2 linked regions of the Homo sapiens genome follow. Each later gene encodes a partner of the first gene's protein in a complex. Each region holds a gene or a part of one and is shown on either strand. Other genes may lie near its edges.

Region 1 (16,347 bases):
ACCGGGGTCCTGGGGAATGTCCTCATCACCCTCTGGATTTCAGGTTGCTTTCACCTTAGGCTTGCTTTGTGCCTGACCTCTCGCTCAGGTTTGTTTTCCTGAATGCTCCGACAGGAAGAAGCTCCGAGGCTTACCTTGGCACAGGTGTCCCTTGGCATATGCTGGTGTTTCAGAACTGGGGGAACCACTCCTTGCTCATCCAGAGTGAGCTCAGACCCTGTCCTTGCATGGGGGGCTTACGTGGTAGTCGATTGAGTCACTCTCGTGGGTAGACCACCCACTTGGGCTTTCTTTTAGCCCCTAATGGAAGCAAAAAACATTTGACTCATTCTAACCCCATATTCCTTAAAATAGAAGGTGGGGTGTGAGGAGAACAGGTGTGCACGTATGGGTGTTTTTTTCAGTTTTGTTTACATTTTGCGAAGGGAGGGAGGGAGAGAGGAGAGTTCTCCTGAAGAAGGGAGTCTGAGCTGCGGAGGCCCCACCTCCTTGTAGTTTTCATGCCCTGTAGACCTTTCTGCTTCCGCAGCTGTGAAATGGGGGTGGCAGTTAGATTTTTATTCCTTTTAAACATAAAGGAAACCTAGATCCATGTGTGAGTCGACTGTATACGCTGTCTGTAATCTGACGTCCAGCCTGTCGGGGAGACTCGGTAAAGATCTCTGTGGAGCAGTGAGCCATGAGCGTGACAGCGCGGATCGGGGGGTTGGCTGGGTGTGAAAGGTAATCATTTTCTTGTGAATCCTTTTAACTGTAGCGAGCATAAAACAGCAAACCTGGGGCAGCCTTTAGTTCTGCTTTTGTTTCTGGCATTCCGTTTGGGATTAATTGTGGGGCATGTCCTTCTCTTTCAGTTGAAACAATTGATTTTTTTTCCTGCACCTGAACACACTGGGCTGTACAAAAGGAGAGCATTAAAACGCTCCCCTGGAGGTAAACATTGCAGTTGAGCTCACTAGAATTCTGACGACATCAGAGGGTTTGTCCTGTGCTACTTGTAATTGACCCAGATGCCCCACCCACCTGTTACCTGTAATTTGGATTTGTTTGTGGGGAATGGGAGTGGTACCCCTTTGCATCACAAGGGGAAGAACGGAATTTGGGGGCAAGGAAGTCTATGAATATCATTCAAGGGAAAGCGGAAGAAAGTTATCTCTTGTGTGAATTGAAGGCAGTGTCTGCTAAGATATTTGGGAAGACTTTCCCTGTTTGTCCTCAGGAGTTGGCCGTGTAACCAGCTGTTAAGTTGGGGGCTCCTGGAAACTCTCATTCTGCTTTTTTAATTTTTATTTTACTGGGGAAGTGGCTATCAGCTGTCAAGTGCCCTGCAGTCACTTTTGCTTAGCGGCTTTATTGAAATAGAATTCACTTGCCACAACATACAATTTACCCATATAAAGTGTACAGTTCGGCGGCTTTTATTTAGTATATTCAGAGTTGTGCAGCCATTACCACAGTAAACTTTAGAACATTTTTGTCACCCCAGAGATAAACCCTGCACCCCTTAGCCCATCCGTCCTACCTCCACAGCCCCTGGCAACCACTCACCTGCTTTCTGTCTCAAGATGTGCCTGTTCTGGGCATTTCACATCAACGGAATCATATCATATATGGTGTTTTGTGTCTGGCTCCTTTCACTCTGCGTGATGTGTGAGAAGTAGCTACAAGGTGAGCTTCGTAGCTGTTCCCTGGCCGAGCATTCAGGAAAATGAACCTGATCGAGGTTCATCCACGCTGTGGTATGTGTCATCATTTCATTCCTTTTTTTTTTTTGAGACAGAGTCTCGCTCTGTTGCCCAGGCTGGGGTGCAGTGGCGTGATCTTGGCTCACTGCAACCTGTGCCTCCCAGGTTCAAGCGATTCTCCTGCCTCAGCCTCCCCAGTAGCTGGGATTACAGGTGCACACCACCATGCCCCGGCTAATTTTTGTATTTTTAGTAGAGACGGGGTTTCACCATGTTGGCCAGATGGTCTTGATTTCCTGACCATGTGGTCCACTTGCCTCGGCCTCCCAAAGTGCTGGGATTACAAGCATGAGCCACCGCACCTGGCCAGCATTTCATTCCTTTTTAAGGCTGAGTAATATTCCATGGGTGGAATGGTCCAGATGGATGGACCATGTTTTGTTTATCTCGTCATCTGTTGATGGACATTTGGGTTGTTTCCACCTCTTGGCTTTTGTGAATAGCACTGCTGTGGCCATGAGTGTACAGGTTTCTGCGTGGATGTGTTTATAGACCTGCTGGGCCGCGTAGTAACCTTGGGTTTAATGGTTTCAGTAACTGCAAGACTGTTTTCCAGTGTGTAGCCACTTTCCATACCAACCCTACCTGAACTGGTTTTGCGCAGTTGGTTTTCCCTTAATGTGTGTTGAAAGACAGTGTGTCCCCACCGGGATGGGAAAGTGGCAGCAGGGGTGACTCCCTGCACTCAGAGCTGGTTCAGATAACACTCCTTTTCTTGTTTATGAAATGAAACTGATATTTATCAAAGCCCTTGAGATCCTGGGATGAAAAGCGCTGACACAGTATTGCCAAGTGTCCTTAAGATACAGGGACAGTTTTCGAGCATCTGACCTTTTCCTGGGCCCTTCTCTGCTGCCACTTCTCCTGCTCCCAGGACAGTGAAGGTAATTTCAGAAGTCCTTTGCATAATAGCTGGTGTTACAAGCCTTTTGGTCTGCCTGGTTGGAATATTTCCTCTTGACTGTAGCTTCTGCCCTGGATCCTCCAAACGGGAACTAGAGTGAAACTCTTAAGAGTTGGAAATACTGCTCAGTATTAAGAAGGAACAAACTATTGATACCTGCAACAACATGGATGTGTCTCATAATAATTACTTTTTTGTATGTGTCATTCATCATATGATTTAATTCATAAAAAAATTCTAGAAATTGCCAGCTAGCCTGCAGCAATAGAAAGCAGACCAGTGGTGGCTGGACAGAAAGGTGGGAAAGGGGAGGCAGGTGACAAAGGGCACAGGAAACTTGGGGGTAATGGACGTTTTTATTATCGTGATTGTAGTGATAGTTTTATGGGTGTTTAAGTACATTGATGTATGTCAGTTTCTAAAATGGCACACTAAACATTTGCAGCTTATGGTATGTCAGTTATGCCTCAATGAAACTGGAAAGAAAAGTCAGGGAGATACCACTATCCACCCATTTTTTTTTTTTTTTTTTTTTGGAGACGGAGTCTCGCTCTGTTGCCTAGGCTGGAGTGCAGTGGCACAATCTTGGCTCACTGCAACCTCCACCTCCTGGGTTCAAGCGATTCTCCTGCCCTAGCCTCTCGAGTAGCTGGGACTACAGGTGTGTGCTACCATGCCCGGCTAATTTTTTGTATTTTTATAGAGGCAGGGTTTCACCATGTTAGTCAGGATGGTCTTGATCTCCTGACCTCGTGTTCCGCCCTCCTCTACCTCCTAAAGTGCTGGGATTACAGCCGTGAGCCACTGCGCCCAGCCTGCCATACTTTTTTTAAAAGGCTGAAAGTGCTACTTGGGTTTTTTGTTTTTGTTTTAAGGCAAAGTCTCATTCTGTCACCCAGGCTGTAGTGCAGTGGCGTTATCATGGGTCACTGCAGCCTCGACCTCCTGGGCTCAAGCGATCCTTCCACCTCAGCCTCCCAAGTAGCTGGGACTACAGGTGTGTGCCACCACGTCTGGCTGATTTTTCTTTTTTTGTAGAGATGGGGTTTTGCCATGTTACCCAGGCTGGTCTTGAACTCCTGGGCTCAAGAGATCCTCTCACCTCAGGCCTCCCAAGTGTTGGAATTACAGAGTGAGCCATTGAGCCTGGCAAAAGTGCTGCCTGGAACTCTCATGCCATACACCTACCTGTGACCTAGCAGAGATGAAGGTGTGTGTACGCAGGGCTGCGCCAAATGCTGACAGCATCTCTTCATGAGAACCCCAAACCGGAAGCAGCCCCAGTGGCCATCAGCAGATGAATGGGTAAACAAAGCAGTGTGTACATCCAGTGGGAAAAATGTGTGCCTATTGGTTTGAGTTGCTTTTCTTAGCTCACCTGAAAGTATGAGGTCTGTGGGTAGGTACAGACCTTTTAGGCAGCAACACGCATGTTTTTGTGCAGGTGCTCTGGGTGACCTTGTAGATAGATGCTGCTTGGTACTGGTCCCACTTTGTTCCTTCATCCTCAGGTCAGGTCTGCACTGCCTGTTCCGTCTCCACTCCTGGTAGCCTGTGGGAGTCACAGCTGAATAGTCATCTCGTACTGGGATTTTACTCTGAGTGCATGAGTTGTTTCCCTAGGAAAAACATGCTGTCTTTCTGGATCGTAAGGGACAACTAGCTAAAGCTCCTAGCCGACCTGTCGTCCAGCCCTCACTCTCCTCCTGCCAGACTTCTCTGTATTGCCTCCACTTCTCTGAGTGTGTAAACCTGGGCTCACTTTTCCTTTTGAAGTGGTAAAATACTCAGGATAGAAAGTTGCTACTTTGTCTTCAAAGCCATTGTCCTGACCTATCCTTGACTGTCCAGGTGAACACACCATCTTCTGCTGAGCCCTGAGATTATGACCAAGGCGGGGTGAGTTCCATACAGTCTTGGGTTCCGAAAAGTGGTGAGTTTAAAATCTGCACATGTAGCTGGGCACGATGGCCCATGCCTGTAATCCCAGTACTTTGGGAGGCTGAGGCAGGCAGATCATTTGAGCTCAGGAGTTTGAGACCAGCCTGGGCAAAATGTCCATGATCGCACCACTGCACTCCAGCCTGGGTGACAGAGTGAGACCTTGTCTTAATAAAAAGAAGAAAATCCAGGCCGGGCTTGGTGGCTCACGCCTGTAATCTCAGCACTTTGAGAGGCAGAGGCAGGTGAATCACCGGAGGTCAGGAGTTCCAGACCAGCTTGACCAACATGGAGAAATCCTGTCTCTACTAAAAATACAAAATTAGCTGGGTATAGTGGCACATGCCTGTAATCCCAGTTACTTGGGAGGCTGAGGCAGGAGAATCGCTTGAACCCGGGAGGTGGAGGTTGCGGTGAGCTGAGATTGTGCCATTGCACTCCAGCCTGGGCAACAAGAGCAAAACTCCATCTTAAAAAAAAAAAATGCTCATGACTTCATTTTGGCTTTTTGAATCCTCTGGTAGCCCAGGTGTGGTTTTAGGGTGCCAGAACATTGGAGATAAGATGCCGTTTACCTGGAGGAGTGTTGGCAAGTGTTTGGTCAGCACTTACCCCTTAGTAGACTTACTGAGTGTGTTTTCAAATTGTTAGGAGTTTCCCAGTGATTATGTGAAAGTGACCTGAGCTGACACTTTACAGTTAGTGGTGAATACACGAAACAATTTCTATTTTTATCACAATTAATTACCCGGATTCAGGATGACGGGGTGGGGGATTATGACTAATACTATACCAGGACTAACTAAAAAAAGAGTTCCCTCTCAGCCTAGCTACCACCACCACAAAAGCTTACCACCATCAGCTACCACCACATTTCTCTCATTGCTTGATTGAAGTCTGATGACCTACCAGGGAACCCCCTTCTTTTCTTTTTAGACGGAGTCTCGCACTGTCGCCCAGGCTGGAGTGCAGTGGCGCGATCTTGGCTCACTACAACCTCTGCCTCCCGGGTTTAAGTGATTTTCCTGCCTCAGCCTCCCGAGTAGCTGGGATTACAGGTGCGCACCACCATGCCCAACTAATTTTTTTGTATTTTTAGTAGAGACGGGGTTTCACCATGTTGGCCAGGCTGGTCTGGAGCTCCTGACCTCAGGTGATCTGCCCACCTTGGCCTTCCAAGGTGCTGAGATTACAGGCATGAGCCACCACACCTGGCCCCTTTAAGTATAGAACTTAGTGCTGTTTTAGTAAATTTACGGAATTGGGCAGCCACCACAGCAGTGCCTTGCTGTCTCTGATTTCTCTTTCGCTCCTTTCCGCTCCCTCCCCACCACCCCTTGTCAGACCCTGTGCTCATGCCCAAGGTCACCCGTTAGGGAGGTGTGTCCACCGCCTCAGACTGAGCCCTGCCCTGGGGAGGTCAGAAACATGGCCAAGCCCTGGCCCCATGCTCCCCCGCCTTTAAGCCCCGTGTCTGTTAACTTTTGCACCCTCTGCGAGCTGCTGGGCAACCTCTTCAGCCTGGCCCTGGACTTCAGCCATCCCCTGCTGTTTTCTTACTTCCTGGCCTTGCTGTGCTTGTGGGACTGAGGGCAGTGAGGCCAGCAGAGGGAGAGTGAAGCCTTTGACCCCCGCGGTTGCACTGTTAGAAGACAGCACATGCCGCCTGGCCAGGGTGCTGTGAGGGCCCCAGGAGTAGGAGTGGGCTCCCCTGCTAAGGGAAAGCCTGTGGGAATGGCGCCTCTGGAGTTGTTCAGAAGCTGTACCTGCCAGGCAGAGGGGTGGGCACAGCACTTTGCCTAGAAGGAGGGAGGGTGGATGTGGGGCCAGTGGGGCCAGGGCAGGGGCTGGGCTGTGTCCTGGAGCCTTTAGGAGCTGCTGGGGTGCCTTGACCAAGGCTGGGAGGAGGGCTCTGAGATGGCAGTGGCGGGGGTTAGGGGAGGGGCTGTGGTGTTGGAGGTTGGGCATTGTGGCCCAGGTTGGACCCCGAATGGATGGAGGGGCCACAGGGCAGTGGAGACGGAGGACACCGGGATCAGGGCTGTGTGTGTACATGTGTGTATGCATGAGTAAGTGTGTAAGTGTGTGTGCCTGTGGGAACTGCCAGGGTACCGGCTGCCCCCTCCCAGTCCTCACAGGGAGCCACAGACTTAAAAAGCAGCTCCAGCTCCTGCCTGTGGTCTCATCAGGGTCCATAATTCCCCAGGCTGAGCCGGGGCTCTCTCCGCTGGGGAGGCACCGTCCTGAGGGCCTTGTGAGAGGGAGAGGCCTCCCCAGAGCGGCTGCAAGGAAGCTAAAGGGCACATGCTGGGCAGCAGCTCACAACTGAGGGGCAGTTTGTGCTTGTCATGGTGGTGAGAGTGCTTTCATGGTGGTCGGGATAGTCTAGCTTGGCAGAGAAGGGCCGTGACACCCAGCTGTGCTCTGTGGCATTCAGGGCCGAGGGGCCTGGCTGGAGGGGCTGGTGGGAGGAGTGGGTCCGGGCCCTGGCACCAGTGCTGTTCGGGGCTCCGGAGGGTTCATGGCCTTGAGCTCTCCTTGCTGGAGCACATACCTATGAGAGCAAAGTTCTGCTTTCTCTGATACATGGAGGGCTGCTGGGTCCTGGAGTCTGGTGGCTGGCAGCAGGTCCTTGTGCCTTTTTCTGTGTTGGTCGAATAGCAGCTTAAGAGCCGGGTAACCCAGCCGGGCTTCTCAGGTCCCGTGGGCCTTTGCCAGGATGGTGTCTAGATGTGTAAAGGTGGCTCGTTGGGCTCTAGAGAGCCCTTGTGACAGTGAGCATGGCATCTTCCTGAAGCATCAGCTCCTTGCAGAGCGAGTGCAGGCTCCTGGCGGCCCTGGGAGAGGGGGTTGCAGATCCCAGGCAGAGGTGTTTGGTCAGAGCTGCGCTGCCTGCACCGTCCTCACCTCTTTTTCAGTACGGGGATCCATGCGCATAGCTTGCAGCCCTGCTGCATCCTCCGTGTAGAAACGTCTACGATGAATTCTCTAACATACAAGAGCTGGTGAGCCCTGTGCCTCCGTCTCCCTGATGAGACAGTTGTGAAGGTTTTCTTCTCCCTGTTTTCTTTTTTTTTCTTCACTGGTGTGTGTTTTTAAAGCAAGTCTTTTGTGTCCTTTCACCTTTGTGTCTGAGGTGGAGCCCTGTGAATTGGCGATACTCAGCCATTTTGACCTGCAGTATGTAGTATGCATTTCTAGAAGCAGAAAAGGGCGCCTGTCCTGAATAGCTGCAGCGCCGTTATCACACAAGCAGCGTCAACAATGGCTTTTCACGATTGTCCGATATGTAGGGACAGTTGGCCTCTCTCCACAGCAGATTCTTTACTGGGATCCTGGAGGTCCGCTGTTGAGATGATGGCTGTCTCTGGGCCCTGCGTTCCGAGCGGCCTCTCCCGCTGCTTTTCATCTCGCCAAGCTGCAGTCTGGCCTGGGTTGTTGTCCTGTGAGGTGTGCACCTTCTGGACTGAACCCCTCATTGTCACACTTCAGCTTCTTGCTGAAGGTGTGGAGTGGATTTCATCTCAGGCTGTGGGCTCCAGGGAGAGTGGCTGATCCCCGGGCTGGGAAGGCAGGGGCGGCCTGAGGTGAGCTGGGGATGCCTTGCACACTCGGCCCGTTGAAATGAACCTCACGCGGACTCTAGCACACCTGGCTGGAACAAGGGTCTGCCGGTCCACACAGGTGCCATTGGTGAGAGGGGAGGCGAGAGGCCCTTTCTCTTTGGGAAGAACGAATGTGAGCCTAGGCAACATATTGAAAAATTAAAAAACTTTCTAGGCATTGTGCACACCTGTAGTCTCAGCTACTTGGGACGCTGAGGCAAGAGGATCTCTTTTAAGTTCAGGAGTTTGAGGATGCAGTGAGCTATGATTCTACCACTGCACTCCAGCCTGGGTGGCAGAGCAAGACCCTGTCTCAAAAAAATAAAGGAATGGAGAGCCTGGGGACCGCTGTGTCGGGTGGTGGGACTATGTGAAAGATGGTCAACTCCTAGCAGTTTCACGTGGTTCAAACTAATAGATTAAAGGTGGCTAAAGAGACATCACAAATCACGTGCAGTCATTAACTGGGACTTGGATTCTTAAAAACCTGTAAAAGACGTTATGAAGACATTGGGGTGATGGGTGAATGTGTATTAACCAACAGTGTGGCAGGCTGGGTGCGCTCATGAGCCAGCTGTTTTGTGGGGATGTGGAGAAAGCCCTCCCCTGGGGCCGGCCACTCTGAAATGGGTCAGGAAGAGATAAGTGTGTGAGAGCAAGGGGAGTCGGAGTGCAGGGGGATGTGATGGAGAGTGTCCAGCTGGAGGGGTGTGGGGGTCGGATTTCTGTAGCTTTGGAATTTTTCAAAATAAGAGGAAATATCAGGGCAGAATCCTTCCAGTTTGGGGGCCAGACCTCCTGGCAACCCTCTGCCTTGAGAGGGCTCAGAGACCCTGCAGCTTCTTGGCAGTCATCACTCTGAGGGTGTGGTGAACTTCCTATTCCCTCCCCTTTTTTTCCTTTACAATTTTTTTAATTAAAAAAAATTTGGGGGGGTGCTGGGTGCAGTGGCTCACACCTGTAATCCCAGCATTTTGGGAGGCCAAGGTGGGTGGATCACCTGAGGTTGGGAGTTCGAGACCAGCCAGACCAACATGGAGAAACCCTGTCTCTACTAAAAATAGGCGTGGTGGCGCATGCCTGTAATCCCAGCTACTTGGGAGGCTGAGGCAGGAGAATCGCTTGAACCCGGGAGGCAGAGGTTGCGGTGAGCCGAGATCGCGCCATTGCACTCCAGCGTAGGCAACGAGAGTGAAACTCCGTCTCAAAAAAAAAAAAAATTTAAATAGAGATGGGGCCTCACTATCTTGCCCAGGCTATTCTCAAACCCTGGGCTCAAGATCCTCCTGCCTTGGCCTCCCAGAGTGCTGGGATTACAGGTATGAGCCATCACGCCTGGCCTCCTGCCCTCTCTTTTATTTAAGCCTTGGAATTAGAGAATCAGGAATGAGCTGCTTTGCCTTTTGAGCTTGGCCTTTAGCCAACAATGTTGAGGGCCTCCTGGGGTGCAGGCTCCATCTAGGTGCTGGGCTCATGGCAGGGAGCAGGACAGACAATGCCCCACGGGGGCCTTGAGGTGGGGTCAGAGGATGCCTGCCTGAGAGGCACCCTGTGGACCTCACCCTGAGGCTGAGGGAACAGCAGGTGCAAGGCCTGGGTGCTGGCAAATGCAGACAGTGGTGCAAATGTTGGAGTAGATGTCTGCGGCCTGAGAGTTTATGATGGCACATTTGGGGGGATTTTTGAGTTTTTGAATTTCTGTGGTTTTCGTCTGTGGGAATGAAGTGACTTTCTTTGTTTTTTTTTTTTTTTTTTGAGACAGAGTCTTGCTCTGTGACTCAGGCTGGAGTGCAGTGGTGTGATCTCGGCTCACTGCAACCTCCGCCTCCTGGGTTCAAGCGATTCTCCTGCACGGGGATTACAGGTGCGCATCACCATGCCCAGCTAATCTTTTGTATTTTTAGTAGAGATGGGGTTTTGCCATGTTGGCCAGGCTTGTGTGTGTGTGTGTGTGTGTGTGTGTGTGTGTGTTGTTGTTAAGAGAGACAGGGTCTTGGTCTGTTGCTCAGGCTAAAGTTCAGTGGTACCATCATAGCTCACAGCGGCCTTGACCTGCTGGGGTCAAGCAATCCTCCGGCCTCAACCTCCTGATTAGCTGGGACTACAAGTGTGCGCCACCACACCTGGCTCGTTTGTGTATTTTTTTGTGGAGACAGGATCTTGGCTGTGTTGCCCAGGCTGGTCTTGAGAACTCCCGGGCTCAAGCGATCCTCCCAAAGTGTTGGGATGACAGGTGTGAGCCACCATTCCTAGCCTTGAAGTGACCTACTGTTGTGCTGCCCTGATGCACGGTCTGAGTTCTGGAGCATGTCTCTGGGCAGAAAGCCCCTGTACAGCTCTTAGATGGACTTCCAGGATGTGGTTTTAGTCGTAGCTAGGTTCACATCCAGAACTAAAGGAGTTAGAGACTCCAGCTCTGGGGCCTCGTGTATGACTAGGAAGTGGGAATTCTAGGATACGTCTTTAAATACTGTGTCCAGAGCAGAGGTGATGGGAGGAGCTGCTTTTTTTGGGGGCCGGGGGGGGGTTTGGGTTTTTCTTTTTTCTTTTTTTTTTTGAGATGGAGTTTTGCTCTTGTTGCCCAAGGTGGAGCGTGCAGTGGCACGGTCTCAGCTCACTGCAACCTGCGCCTCCTGGGTTCAAGCAATTCTCCTGTCTCAGCCTCCCAAGTAGCTGAGATTACAGGCACGTGCCACCACGTCCAGCTAATTTTTTTTTTTTTTGCCTTTTTAGTAAAAACGAGGTTTCACCATGTTGGCCAGGCTGGTCTCGAACTCCTGACCTCAGGTGATCCGCCCTGCCGAGGAGCTGCTTCTTGGTGAATGCCTGGGATGGGTACAGGGAGGCCTTGCCCCTCCAGAGCCTCCCTGGTGAGGGGATAAGTTGACAGCCTCAAAGGACTTTATTGGAGTGGCAGCTCTGTGCCAGCTGAAGATGATGACCCTCTTGTCCTTCACCCATCATGTCCCCTGGCGTGGGCTGTGGAACTTCTCTGTGCCAGGCACTGTCCCCTACTGCTGTTTTACCTCATTTCATGATAGTTCCTAGGGTCAAATATATTTTTGAAATTAATGTTTTATCTTGAAACTTTTCAGAGAGTGAAGGGAGAAGTTAACCCAGAAGTCAGCTTGTGTTGTGACCAGATCACTGCAGGGCAGCATTGGGCCCAGTGTGCATCTGTGCGTGCAGGTAGCACGTGCCCATGCACCCCAGCCAGGCGGGCTGGAGGGGCCTCTGTGGGGTGCTGCTCCCCATGAGCACCTGTCCCTAGGCTCGCACAGGTGCTGCATCACACAGCAAGGGCATTAGGCCGAGGGGCTGTCTGGGGTGCTGGGACTGGCAGTGGGAGATTTGGTGCCGTCCCTAGGGGAGCTCCCATCACTCCTCCCTGGCCCTTAATTTTGTGCCACCTTGTGTTCTGCCATGACACAGTGCTCCCGCTGCCTGACCCCGTGGTGGGGTTAGGTGGCCTATGGGGGCCATGCCAGGGACTGTTGGCCATGTCATTTGAGGTGCTGGTACTTGGGAGTGGCATGAGGAGCCCCAGTGGCTGTGTGGTCTCCTTGCAAGTGTCCTGTGCAGTTGTGGCCTGATGACTTAGAGCCATGCGCTGTCTGCCTTTGCTGAACATAGAAGAGGCGCCTTCAGTGAGGGTGTGGCCTCGGTTGCCAAGGGTATCTCAGTGTTCAGTTTCTACTTCATCCTCAGGAGAGGGCTGCCTTGAAGGGATGGGGAGGGTGAGGTGGCAGTGGATGTGGCCAGTGACATTTCCACATCTGCATGGGTGGCAGCTTCGTAGTGTTTGATGAGCCTTACACTGTGGTGGGTCTGGCATCATGAAGCTGTCCTCAGGGCACACTGCTGTCAGTCTGTAAAAGTCACCCTGCTCCTTGTGGTCCTCAGTCATGGGAAAGAAGCATCTTCCTAAGCATCCTGGTTGTGGGCATGGACATGGCTCTGTGGCTAGGCGGGGGTTAGACCAGCTGTGTGGGGGACCGGGGGGTGTAGAAGGCCACCAGTGGCCCTTTTTTGGCCAGGTAGGTTTGCTAGAGAAGAGTGAAATCCAGTCAGAACAAGGGAAACTGTCTCAAAGCAGAGATGAGGCCAGGGTGTCACACCAGAGTCATCGAGGCTGGTTCTTCTGCACTGAGTCCTGGAAGCTGCAGCCTCACTCAGGTGACACTGCGTTCTGCTGCAGGTTGGGCCCGAAGGCATCCTGCAGAACGGGGCTGTGGACGACAGTGTAGCCAAGACCAGCCAGTTGTTGGCTGAGTTGAACTTCGAGGAAGATGAAGAAGACACCTATTACACGAAGGACCTCCCCATACACGCCTGCAGGTGAGCTGAGCTCAGCTGGGCCTGGGCATGTGCTGGACAGGTGGGTGCCTCTGGCATGGGCCTGGGACACTCACCTCCCAGGTACAGGGTGGCGCCCTTGTGCTGTGACTCTGGGTGGCGGTGTCCTCGGGAGTAAGGAAATTGCTCAGGCCATGTGCACAGCCAAGGCCTGTTACCGGTCAGGAGGTGGGCTCAGCAACCTCCGACACCCTGAATTCACCAGCTGGTGGGAAAAGTTTTCCTTCCTTTGGCCTCCTCAGACCCTGGGGGCATTGCCTGGTACCTGCGCACTCACTCATAGAAAGAATTTGTCATGGCATTGGGTGAGCATCTGGGGTGGGAGGGTGAGTGGAGCAGCTGAGATACCCTCACAAAGCAGTTGCTGCAGGGTTCTGGGGCATCCCTGCCTCCCGCTGCCTTGGCCGTGCCTGGAGAATTGGATGTGAAGACAGTAGTTAGTGGATAGACCTGCATGTTGACAAATTTAGAATTCTCATCTCGAGTGGGATCGTCCCTTGTTGAGGCTTATTTCTGTATTTTTGTGACACACAAGTGAGGAAATGTAGATTAGAAGAGGGGAGAAGGTTTTGGCCAGGCACGGTGGCTCACTCCTGTAATCCCAGCACTTTGGGAGGCCGAGGTGGGCAGATCACGAGGTCAGGAGATCGAGACCATCCTGGCTAACACGGTGAAACCCTGTCTCCACTAAAAATACAAAAAATTAGCCAAGCATGGTGGCGGGCGCCTGTAGTCCCAGCTAGCTACTTGGGAGGCTGAGGCAGGAGAATGACATGAACCCGGGAGGCGGAGGTTGTAGTGAGCCGAGATCGCACCACTGCACTCCAGCCTGAGCGACAGTCACGGCAGGTTTGGGCCTGAGCCCTGCCTCTGTCTGTGGGCACCCACTTGGGGCCCTCCCTGCAGCTCCTTGCCCGCGTGCTGCCCAGCGCTCCGGGACTGAGGCTGCTCTTCGCTAGGCTTGGTGGGCAGGCACTCTTTCCTGCATCTCAGCTCTTCACTCATTCTCATTTACAGATGTTTTCGTGTATGTAATTGTGTTCTCTTAACACACAGAGATGGCCATAAGTCCTGGTGCAGCTCTGGGGAGCTAGTATTTTTGGGTTTGGTATGTGGATTTTCAGAAAACCACAGCCAGTGGTGGGGTGAGGCTCTCCCGAGGCTCCTCGCTTGGGCTTCGGGGCCTGAGCTTCAGGGCGCTGCTGCTGCAGGGTCTGTGCCCAGCTCCCTGGGAGCACAGTGCCCTCTGCTGGAGCCCAGAGTTCACCATGACCACTGGGTCTGAGGCTGGATTCCTGAATTTCAGGCCAAAGAACGGGGACTAGAATGGCCCTGGAGGAGTGAGGCCTCCTTCCAGCAGGACTCTCCTTGGAGGTGGCTTTGCTCCTTATCCCCTCGGAGCTTCTGCCACATACCCCTTCCCTGCATTCTTGGATTTGAGAAGCCCTGGTTAACTGGTTTGATTTGGTTACTGGGATTGTTGGGGTTGAGTATGTGTTTAATGAAGAACTTAAAAATGTTGTCAGAGGAAAGAATTTCACATCTTGCCAAATGAAAACCAGAGAGCAAGCTTCCAGCTGTAACTGTCGCTGTTTTGATTTTTTAGTTACTGTGGAATACACGATCCTGCCTGCGTGGTTTACTGTAATACCAGCAAGAAGTGGTTCTGCAACGGACGTGGAAATACTTCTGGCAGGTAGATAATCAGACCATGCATGTGTGTTTAATCAGTGCTGTGCTCAGATTTGTGTGTAAATTATGGAAATGTTGAAGCAAAGCGTAATATAAAATCACGCTAACAAACCTGGGTTTTTTCCTCCTCTGTGACTGGTTTAACTTGAAACAGATGGTGGTGTGTGAATGCCTTAATGTATTTACCCTTGATTTATTCTCTGTGGCTCTTTTTATTATGCAAGTAGGGTTGGCTTAATTCTCCTTCCCAGTTTTTATTTCGATTTTTCTGCAAGATGAGCTCTTGGCACACCCGCTGATCTTCATTAACGGGAGGATGTTCCCAAGGCAGTAACGGGCATCCAGGGGCGCTGGTTCCTGAGCAAGCTTGCTCTGGCCTGAGCTCATCGGAGCTGTCCGGAGGCTAATTCAGGCCAGATCCTGAATCATCGGCTTCAATTAAGTTCACTTGACCGTCGGCGCTGGGCTTGCCTTCCTGATGTTGATCAGCTGCAGCTGGACTGTGTCGCTTGTTCTGTGTTTGGGACAGGACAGTGTTCTCCCAGTGCCCAAATTCCAAGGGGGGAGTTCGATGGTCTTGCCCGAGTGGTGGGACTCTCGTCCTGGTGGGTCCCGTGCTAGCGGCTCCCCTTCCCCTCCAGGTTGCTGTGTACAGGTCACTCCACTGCTGGAGAGGATGGAGCAGAGCCTGGGAGGCAGAGCTCCGAGGTGCTAGCAAGGAAGTGTGGGGTCTTTTTCTGAGGTTCACGTTCTGGAGAAAGAAAATGACCAAAGCCCGGAGGCAGGCTTACTTGTGCTGACACAAGCCCCTCCTGTGCCTTTGACAGCTGTGGGTCTCGGAGGGTTACAGATGGAGCAGTCAGATCTCGTGGCATCTCTGAGTTAGTAACTTGAAATATGGTGTTATGAGCAAGGCCAGAAAGGGGCTGCTGTTTTTAAAAGATTTTAAAGAAGGGTATCTTCTGGATAACCAAAAGACATTCTTGTCCCATTTTCAGAATCTTCTGGGTAATTTAAGTGTTGCTATGTTTGCATTTAGTTCCTCTTGTTCAGGAAAAGCAACTAAATAAAACTTCTCTTAGCTGGCAACCCCAGCTTCCGGTCAGCATAGCCAAGAACAGGGAAGTGAGCAAAAGGGCCTCTGAGAAACAACAGGCTTGAGCCAAGCACCACTGAGCATTCTGTGCGAGGCCCAGGGGAAGGTGAGGAAGCAGCCGCTGGCCCTTAGGGATCTTGGCTGTGACAGGGTGAGGATGCATGAGAAGACACGGAGACAGCTGATTCTGCCCACGTGGCCGGCAGGGCTCCAGAGTGGAGTCGGGCTTTGGAGATGCTCAGAGTGGCCATGGCTGGTTAGAGAATCCTGGGCCTCGTGGCAGGGAGAAGGGTTAGAAGATTAGCTGAGCTGAAGCTTTTGGCAAGAATGGTTTTCCAGAGGGGAAGAGAGAGGGCGCGGTGAGGAAGGCTGGGAGGCCCTGCAGGCGTGTTCAGAGCTGCTGGAGACACCGGAAGAGCCCAAAGGCAGAGCAGCTGGGCATCCTTGTTAGATACGGCAGATAGGTGCTGGAGGGTGGCTGGCTTGGCACAGGGCAGGGTTCAGCCCAGACCGCGGTTTAGGTGAGCAGTGTCCTGGCCACGTCGCAGCAAGGAAGGAGCCGAGCCAGCCAGGGCTTCACACACAGCCCTGGGCTTCTGTAGAACCGCCCCCGCCTCTGCTCAACCTTTTTGCTGCTTTTTGCGGGGGTTTCCAGTCGCCTGCTTATCAGATTTCCCGGCCTGCAGCAAAGCAGGAGGGACTGTTGCTCCTGGAAGTAGGCACAGGGCCTCTGAGGAGTGATTTCAGAAGAAGCCACAGAAGATGGTGGCGGGGGTTGACCTTGGAAAGAAGGGGCTGGGGCCTTGTGGGAAATGTCTCTGACCCCACAGCAGCCCTGGGCCAACAATGGGTTAAATTAGGCCTGATAAGTTGGATTTAAGAAAGCAGGATTTTTAAAAAAGGCAGGAACTATGTGAACCGTGTTAAGGAAGTTTTCCTTAAAGTGGTTCAAGTTGGGATTGATTTTTGTGCTCAGTGGGGAGCTAGTTTGGGGGAGGGCTGGCCCCC
Region 2 (7,000 bases), on another chromosome or scaffold:
AAGCTATAGTAGTGCCTAGTTTTGGAATATTCAGAACCATGATTCTTAAGAGAGTCTTTTTTTTTTTTTTTTGAGACAGGGTCTTGCTCTGTCACCCAGGCTGGAGTGCAGTGGCCTGGTCTTGGCTCACTGCGATCTCTGCCTTCTGGGCTCAAGTGATCCTCCCGCCTCTGCCTCTTGAGTAGCTGGGACTACAGATGCATACCACCATACTTGGCTAATTTTTGTATTTTTTGTAGAGACGGGGTTTTGCTGTGTTGCCCAGGCTGGTCTTGAACTCCTGAGCTCCTGGGAAAATTTCAGATATATGCAAAAATAGAATAGTATAGTGAACTAGTCCCCCATCTACCTAGCATCAATAATTACCCACTTTTTCCCCCTGGAGTATTGTAGAGCATCATAGCATTTACCCATAAAAACTTCGATATATAAGTGTTTTCAATGCAGCTGAAAATTGAGTTATTTAATGTATGTACATACTTTCTTTTCTTTTCTTTCTTTTTTTTTTTTTTGAGACAGAGTTGTTTCACTCTTGTTGCCCAGGCTGGAATGCAATGGCGCGATCTCGGCTCACCGTAACCTCCACCTCCCAGGTTCAAGCCATTCTCCTGCCTCAGCCTCCCGAGTAGCTGGGATTACAGGCATGTGCCACCATGCCCGGCTAATTTTTGTATTTTTAGTAGAGACAGTGTTTCTCCATGTTGGTCAGGCTGATCTCGAACTCCTGACCTCAGGTGATCCACCCGTTTTGGCCTCCCAAAGTGCTGGGATTACAGGCGTGAGCCACGGCACCCAGCCTTGTACATACTTTCTTAAAATGTACTTTCACTGCTCATTTTGTATTTGTGTGTTGCTGGGAGACTTCAAAGAGATACTCAACTGTCCATGTTCTCAGTGATAGAGGCCACCTTTCTGTTAATATATTGTAGCTTTTAATGGAAAAATCAAATAATTATCTTATAACTCAGGGGTGATTATCTCAGAAAGATGAAAATGTACTTTTTTAGAGATTTATAGATATGCGTATAACTTTTTGAGACAGGGCTCACTCTGTCACCCAGGCTGGAGAGCTATGGTGTGATCATGACTCACTGCAGCTTCAACCTCCTGGGCTCAAGCGATCCCCCCGTCTCAGCCTCCCAAGTAACTGGGACTACAGGCATGTGCCACCATGTCCAGCTAATTTTTAAAATTTTTTTGTAGAGATTGGGTCTTACTATGTTGCCCAGTCTGGTCTTAACTCCTGGGCTCTTCCCACCTCAGCTTCACAAAGTGGAGATTTAAGTTATGTGTTTTGTTATCTCAAAAACTTCAATAAACTTCAAAATCAGATTGTTGCCCCTCACTCGTGCCTATTTTATTACTTCTGCAATTTAAACTTGTTCTGTCTTTTTAGTGGAAAAATAGGTATATTTGTTTTTGGTTATTCTTTTCAGTATAAACTGAGTCTACTAGGTTTTTATTAAGTTTCTTATTTGATAGTTGTCTTCTGGTTCCTTTCCAAATTTTCTAAATCACTTGAATTTTTAAGAGCCCAAACATAGCAAGGTACTTTGTTAAAGGTTTGGCTAATGTGCTGAGGATGGAAAAACAATATCTAACATTGCAAAACTGTTTTGTTTTTTTTTTTTTTTTTGAGATGGAGTCTTGCTCTTTCGCCCAGGCCGGACTGCAGTGGCACTATATCGGCTCACTGCAAGCTCCGCCTCCCGGGTTCATGCCATTCTCCTGCCTCAGCCTCCTGAGTAGCTGGGATTACAGGTGCCTGCCACTGCGCCCGGCTAATTTTTTGTATTTTTAGTAGAGACGGGGTTTCACTGTGTTAGCCAAGATGGTCTCGATCTCCTAACCTCGTGATCCACCCGCCTCGGCCTCCCAAAGTGCTGGGATTACAGGCATGAGCCACCGTGCCTGGCCTTTTTTTTTGAGACAGAGTCTTGCTCTGTCACACAGGTTGGAGTGCAGTGGCATGATCTTGGCTCACGGCAACCTGCGCCTCCCGGGTTCAAGCAATTCTGCTGCCTCAGCCTCCTGAGTAGCTGGGACTACAGGCGCGTGCAACCATGCCCTGCTAATTTTTTGTTATTTTTAGTAGAGATGGCGTTTCACCATGTTAGTCAGGATGGTGTCGATCTCCTGACCTCGTGATCTGCCTGCCTCGGCCTCCCAAAGTGCTGGGATTACAGGCGTGAGCCACTGCCCAGGCCTCAAAACATTTTTAATGCATTCTTTTATAGTGCTAATTATTATTATTATTATTATTATTTTTTGAGGCAGAGTCTCGCTCTGTTGCCCAGGTTGGAGTGCAGTTGGGAGATCTTGGCTTACTGCAGCATCAGTCTCCGACTCCCAGGTTTAAGCAATTCTCCTGCCTCAGCCTCCCAAGTAGCTGAGATTACAGGTGCCCACCACCACGACTGGCTGATTTTTGTATTTTTAGTAGAGACGGGGTTTCACCATGTTGGCCAAGCTGGTCTCGAACCCCTGACCTTAGGTGATCCACCCGCCTCCCAAAGTGCTGGGAGCCACCACATCTGGTCTTGTAGTGCTAATTCTTTAAATAATTCTTTGTGTATAATTGTTTTTTTTTCTCTTTGCCCATTGCTTTTATTTGTTTCACATTTTACATCCTTCCCAAACATACTATATTTTTCACAGTAGCATTATATGTCTTACCTAGTTAGCTTGCCAGTTGGCAGAATGATTTTTAATTTTAATCTAGTGTCAGTATCCTCTGCTCTATGACATTTGTTATCGACCTCCAGTACTGGGCTTCTCATTAAGATAATACTTGTTATCGTTAGTCGTTAGTAAAATGTCTTTATGTGTTTTTTTTTTGTTTTTTTTTTTTTGAGACGGAGTCTTGCTCTGTCGCCCAGACTAGAGTGCAGTGTCACGTTCTTGGCTCATTGCAACCTCTGCCTCTTGGGTTTAAGTGTTGTGCCTCAGCCTCCTGAATAGCTGGGACTACAGGTGAGCGCCATCACGCCCAGCTAATTTTTGTATTTTTAGTAGAGGTGGGGTTTCACCATATTGGCCACGCTGGCCTTGAACTCCTGACCTCAGGTGATCTGTCTGCTTTGGCCTCCCAAAGTGCTGGGATTACAGGCATGAGCCACCATGCCTGGCCAGTAAAATGTCTTTAAAAGTAGTGAAAGGCCTTTTGAATCTTGTAGATTGTTATACTTAGATAATTTTTTTCATTGGCTTTTTACTCTTAGGGGATTTGTGTATAATGCTTCAAAATGTAGAGAGTATTTTATTTATTTGTTTGTTTTTATATAGAGAAAAAGAAGAATCCATTCAGCTTCATCAGGAAGCTTGGGAACGACATCATTTAAGAAAGGAACTTCGTAGCAAAAACCAAAATGCTCCGGACAGCCGACCAGAGGAAAACTTCTTCAGCCGCCTCGACTCAAGTTTGAAGAAAAATACTGCTTTTGTCAAGAAACTAAAAACTATTACAGAACAACAGAGAGACTCCTTGTCCCATGATTTTAATGGCCTAAATTTAAGCAAATACATTGCAGAAGCTGTAGCTTCCATCGTGGAAGCAAAACTAAAAATCTCTGATGTGAACTGTGCTGTGCACCTCTGCTCTCTCTTTCACCAGCGTTATGCTGACTTTGCCCCATCACTTCTTCAGGTCTGGAAAAAACATTTTGAAGCAAGGAAAGAGGAGAAAACACCTAACATCACCAAGTTAAGAACTGATTTGCGTTTTATTGCAGAATTGACAATAGTTGGGATTTTCACTGACAAGGAAGGTCTTTCCTTAATCTATGAACAGCTAAAAAATATTATTAATGCTGATCGGGAGTCCCACACTCATGTCTCTGTAGTGATTAGTTTCTGTCGACATTGTGGAGATGATATTGCTGGACTTGTACCAAGGAAAGTAAAGAGTGCTGCAGAGAAGTTTAATTTGAGTTTTCCTCCTAGTGAGATAATTAGTCCAGAGAAACAACAGCCCTTCCAGAATCTTTTAAAAGAGTACTTTACGTCTTTGACCAAACACCTGAAAAGGGACCACAGGGAGCTCCAGAATACTGAGAGACAAAACAGGTGATTTTCAAATGTTTCTCAGAGTTGAGAATTTATTTTGGAGCTCATACTTAAAAATGTTTAAAGTCTTCATGCCACTGAAAGAACTTATGGAAAAGGGCTCCTTACAGGTGATTTCTTAACATTCCAGGAAAATTTCAAAGTAGAACAGTCTGAGTACTCATGTTTTAATGTGAGTCTACGATAGATTTTGTTTCTGATTTTAAAAAAATCTGCCAAGTAGATGGTGATTTTTGCTTTGTGGATGTGTATTCTTCCTGTGATTTTAAATACTCCTTAATAATCAAGGGGTAAAATTTCCTTTTCTGTCACTTAAACTTACCTGCTAATATTTTTCTGTGTGCTTTAACGTTCTCTCTATAACAGGTTTGCTTTCATTGTTTTGTATTTTAAGTTCTTTATGTCACTGTTGCTCTTCTTAAGAAAATGAGTCATTAATTACCAGTGGTATTTCAGATTAGAGTTTTGGGAAATAATGCACAAAATTAGCTGTGAAAAAATTTCTTAAATGCAACTACAAAACTCATTTGTAGGAGTCTTCTTCCTGGGGGCATTCATTTAAAATTCTAAAGGAGGAATGTACTGTGCCTGTGGTAATTGGTGAAAAGACCTGACTTTGGGGCCAATTTTGGTTGTTAAAAGGTATGGTAGACTACTGTGTAGTATTTGTACCTGAGGAGCAACAAGAAGCTAGAAGTTGATGGAGTTGCTAGGCATTAGGTCAATTTCTATGGAGGATGGATTTGGAGGGGGGCTGAGGGAGTGTAGCAAAGAGGTAATAGCCATAGCACGTGGCTGAGTATTAAACTATTTTAATATTTCTACAACTATTTATATTGCATGGTTGAGAATCTGAAATTACTGTTGATCAGAAATTTGTATAGGAGGAGATCCTTTTCTAGTTTCATAAGTCTGTGGTAGGGGAGGAGTGGTTTAAGTAGTTACCACTAGAAGATGATTGACCAGAAGATTGAACAGGAGTAGTGTATGCCAGTAGTACAGTTAGGGCAGGGTCAAGGTAGAGACTGTGGTTAAATCTTTGTGGCTGAAGGTCACTCAGAGGTGAGAATTTAAGACGGCAAAGGTGTTATCAATAGTTCTTTTAGGAAAAAGGAAAAGGCTTATCCTTGTTTTGTGTTTTGATTTGCGAGGACTGGTTTAAACTTTGAAGAGGCAACCTGAGAGTGTACTTGTACCATCAGTAATGGACTAAAAAGGATTATGGTGGTGCTTTATTCATACTTCTCACTTACTTAGGGCTTAATTATGATTTCCATATGCTTTGTCAATTTCATAGTCCTTTGCTCGTACATCCTACCTAATACATCATAACTGATTTGTGAGTATGCTAATAGTATGCTAATGATTGATTAGTTCTTGGCTACTTTGAGGGTGTATGTGTGTGTATTTGCTTTTGATTGGACTCAGAATCTTGGAGAGTGGAGAGATTCTACGATGTTTTAATCCAATCCATTCACCTTTCCAAAGTAGGAATACATTTTTTAGATTATCTAACAGATAAAATTATTTTTCCTCTGAATACTTCCCAAAGGAGCTCAGTTCTCTCGGTGCCATTGCACTGTTGGAAACACTATGGGCTAGGAATTCTTTGTTACATCAGGTGGAAATTTAACTTCCCACAAAATGATTCCCTTTGATTTGGTTCTTTTTTCTGGTATGGATGGAATACAGGTACTTGAAGTAGGAAATCTATGAACTTGTAACCTGTTCACAATTTAATGAAACACAGAAAGTGAGAGTGAGCATTTAGAAATTATTATAGGAATTTTCAGGCTGGAAATGGTGGCTCACACCTGTAATCCCAGCACTTTGGGAGGCCAAGGTGGGTGGATCATCTGAGGTCAGGAGTTTGAGACCAGCCTGGCCAACATGGTGAAACCCCGTCTCTACTAAAAATGCAAAAATTAGCCGGGCATGGTGGCAGGCCCCGGTAATCCCAGCTACTTGTGGGGGACTGAGGCAGGAGAATCACTTGACCCTGGGAGGTGGAGGTTGCAGTGAGCCGAGATTGTGCCATTGCACTCCAGCCTGGAGGACAAGAGCGAGACTTCGTCCTAAAAAAAAAAAAAAAAAAAAAGTTTATAGGAATTTTCAGTGGTCATGGTATTCTTACTATATTTTTACAGAAGTGTCCAGTGGTTGGGGAAGGAAAGGTGGCCCTTTACCACAGATGGTTTGAGGAATACCAGTAGAGGACATATGTGTCCACTTTTATTCCCATGACAGTATCTCAGATATTCAGACTGCCGTGATGTTTCCCTTTTCTCGTCTCCATGTTAAATACCTCCAGTTCTTTCAGTTTGCTCCATGATTTCCAGACACTTCACTACTCTTAGGATACTTGTTTTGGATGCATTCTTTTCTATCTGTGACCTAAAATTGCCTTAGTTTTTATAGCTACCTTGTTGTTCTTTTGGTTTTTGTTAAACTTATTTGCACTGAAGCTTTATTTCTCATATGAACTGCTGACAAGCCACTTCTTCTTCACCTTAAACTAGTGAAATACAATTTTTAAAGCCTAAATGTGTACTTGCATATCTCTGTTAAACTTTATTTAGATGCTTTTTGTATATTATTTTAGCTTTATGAAAGCTTTGGATATTGATTACATGTGTATTATTAATAGTACTGGCAGGGTGCGGTGGCTCACGCCTGTAATGTCAGCACTTTGGGAGGCTGAGGCAGAAGGATCGCTTGAGCCCAGGAGTTTGAGACTAGCCTGGGCAACATGCTGAAACCCCATTGCTACAAAAAATATAAAAATTAGCTGGGTGTGGTGGCATGCGCTTGTAGTCTCAGCTACTTGGGGGCTGAGGTGGGAGGATCAGTTGAGCCTGGAAAGTCGAGACTGCAGTAAGCCATGATCGCACCACTGCACTCTAGCCTGGGCGACAGAGAGAGACCCTGTCTCGAA

The links.
Region 2: the proteins of UPF1 (region 1) and UPF2 are in contact, whole or in part, in a crystal structure (PDB 2WJV), measured with the Homo sapiens proteins. Residues at the interface, in NP_001284478.1 of Homo sapiens: Asn150, Thr151, Ser152, Gly153, Val157, Asn158, Leu160, Val161, Arg162, Lys164, Lys166, Pro175, Leu176, Gly177, Thr179, Tyr184, Cys188, Asn190, Val191, Phe192, Leu193, Phe196, Pro198, Asp202, Ser203, Val204, Val205, Val206, Leu207, Cys209; in NP_056357.1 of Homo sapiens: Val1105, Cys1107, Glu1109, Asp1110, Phe1113, Ile1114, Ala1116, Leu1117, Met1120, Met1121, Asn1124, Leu1125, Arg1128, Met1169, Pro1170, Phe1171, Val1172, Met1173, Leu1174, Thr1175, Gln1181, Lys1184, Leu1186, Asn1187, Val1188, Pro1189, Ser1192, Gln1193, Leu1194, Asn1197.

The regions. Positions count from the first base shown.
Region 1 is NC_000019.10:18,833,587-18,849,933, forward strand, and holds part of UPF1 (regulator of nonsense transcripts 1), read left to right. Parts: intron 1-87; exon of another isoform or gene 88-102; coding exon of another isoform or gene 103-204; intron 205-12,393; coding exon 12,394-12,533; intron 12,534-14,157; coding exon 14,158-14,247; intron 14,248-16,347. UniProt on the Homo sapiens protein: RNA-dependent helicase required for nonsense-mediated decay (NMD) of aberrant mRNAs containing premature stop codons and modulates the expression level of normal mRNAs.
Region 2 is NC_000010.11:12,025,810-12,032,809, reverse strand, and holds part of UPF2 (regulator of nonsense transcripts 2), read left to right. Parts: intron 1-3,285; coding exon 3,286-4,065; intron 4,066-7,000. UniProt on the Homo sapiens protein: Involved in nonsense-mediated decay (NMD) of mRNAs containing premature stop codons by associating with the nuclear exon junction complex (EJC).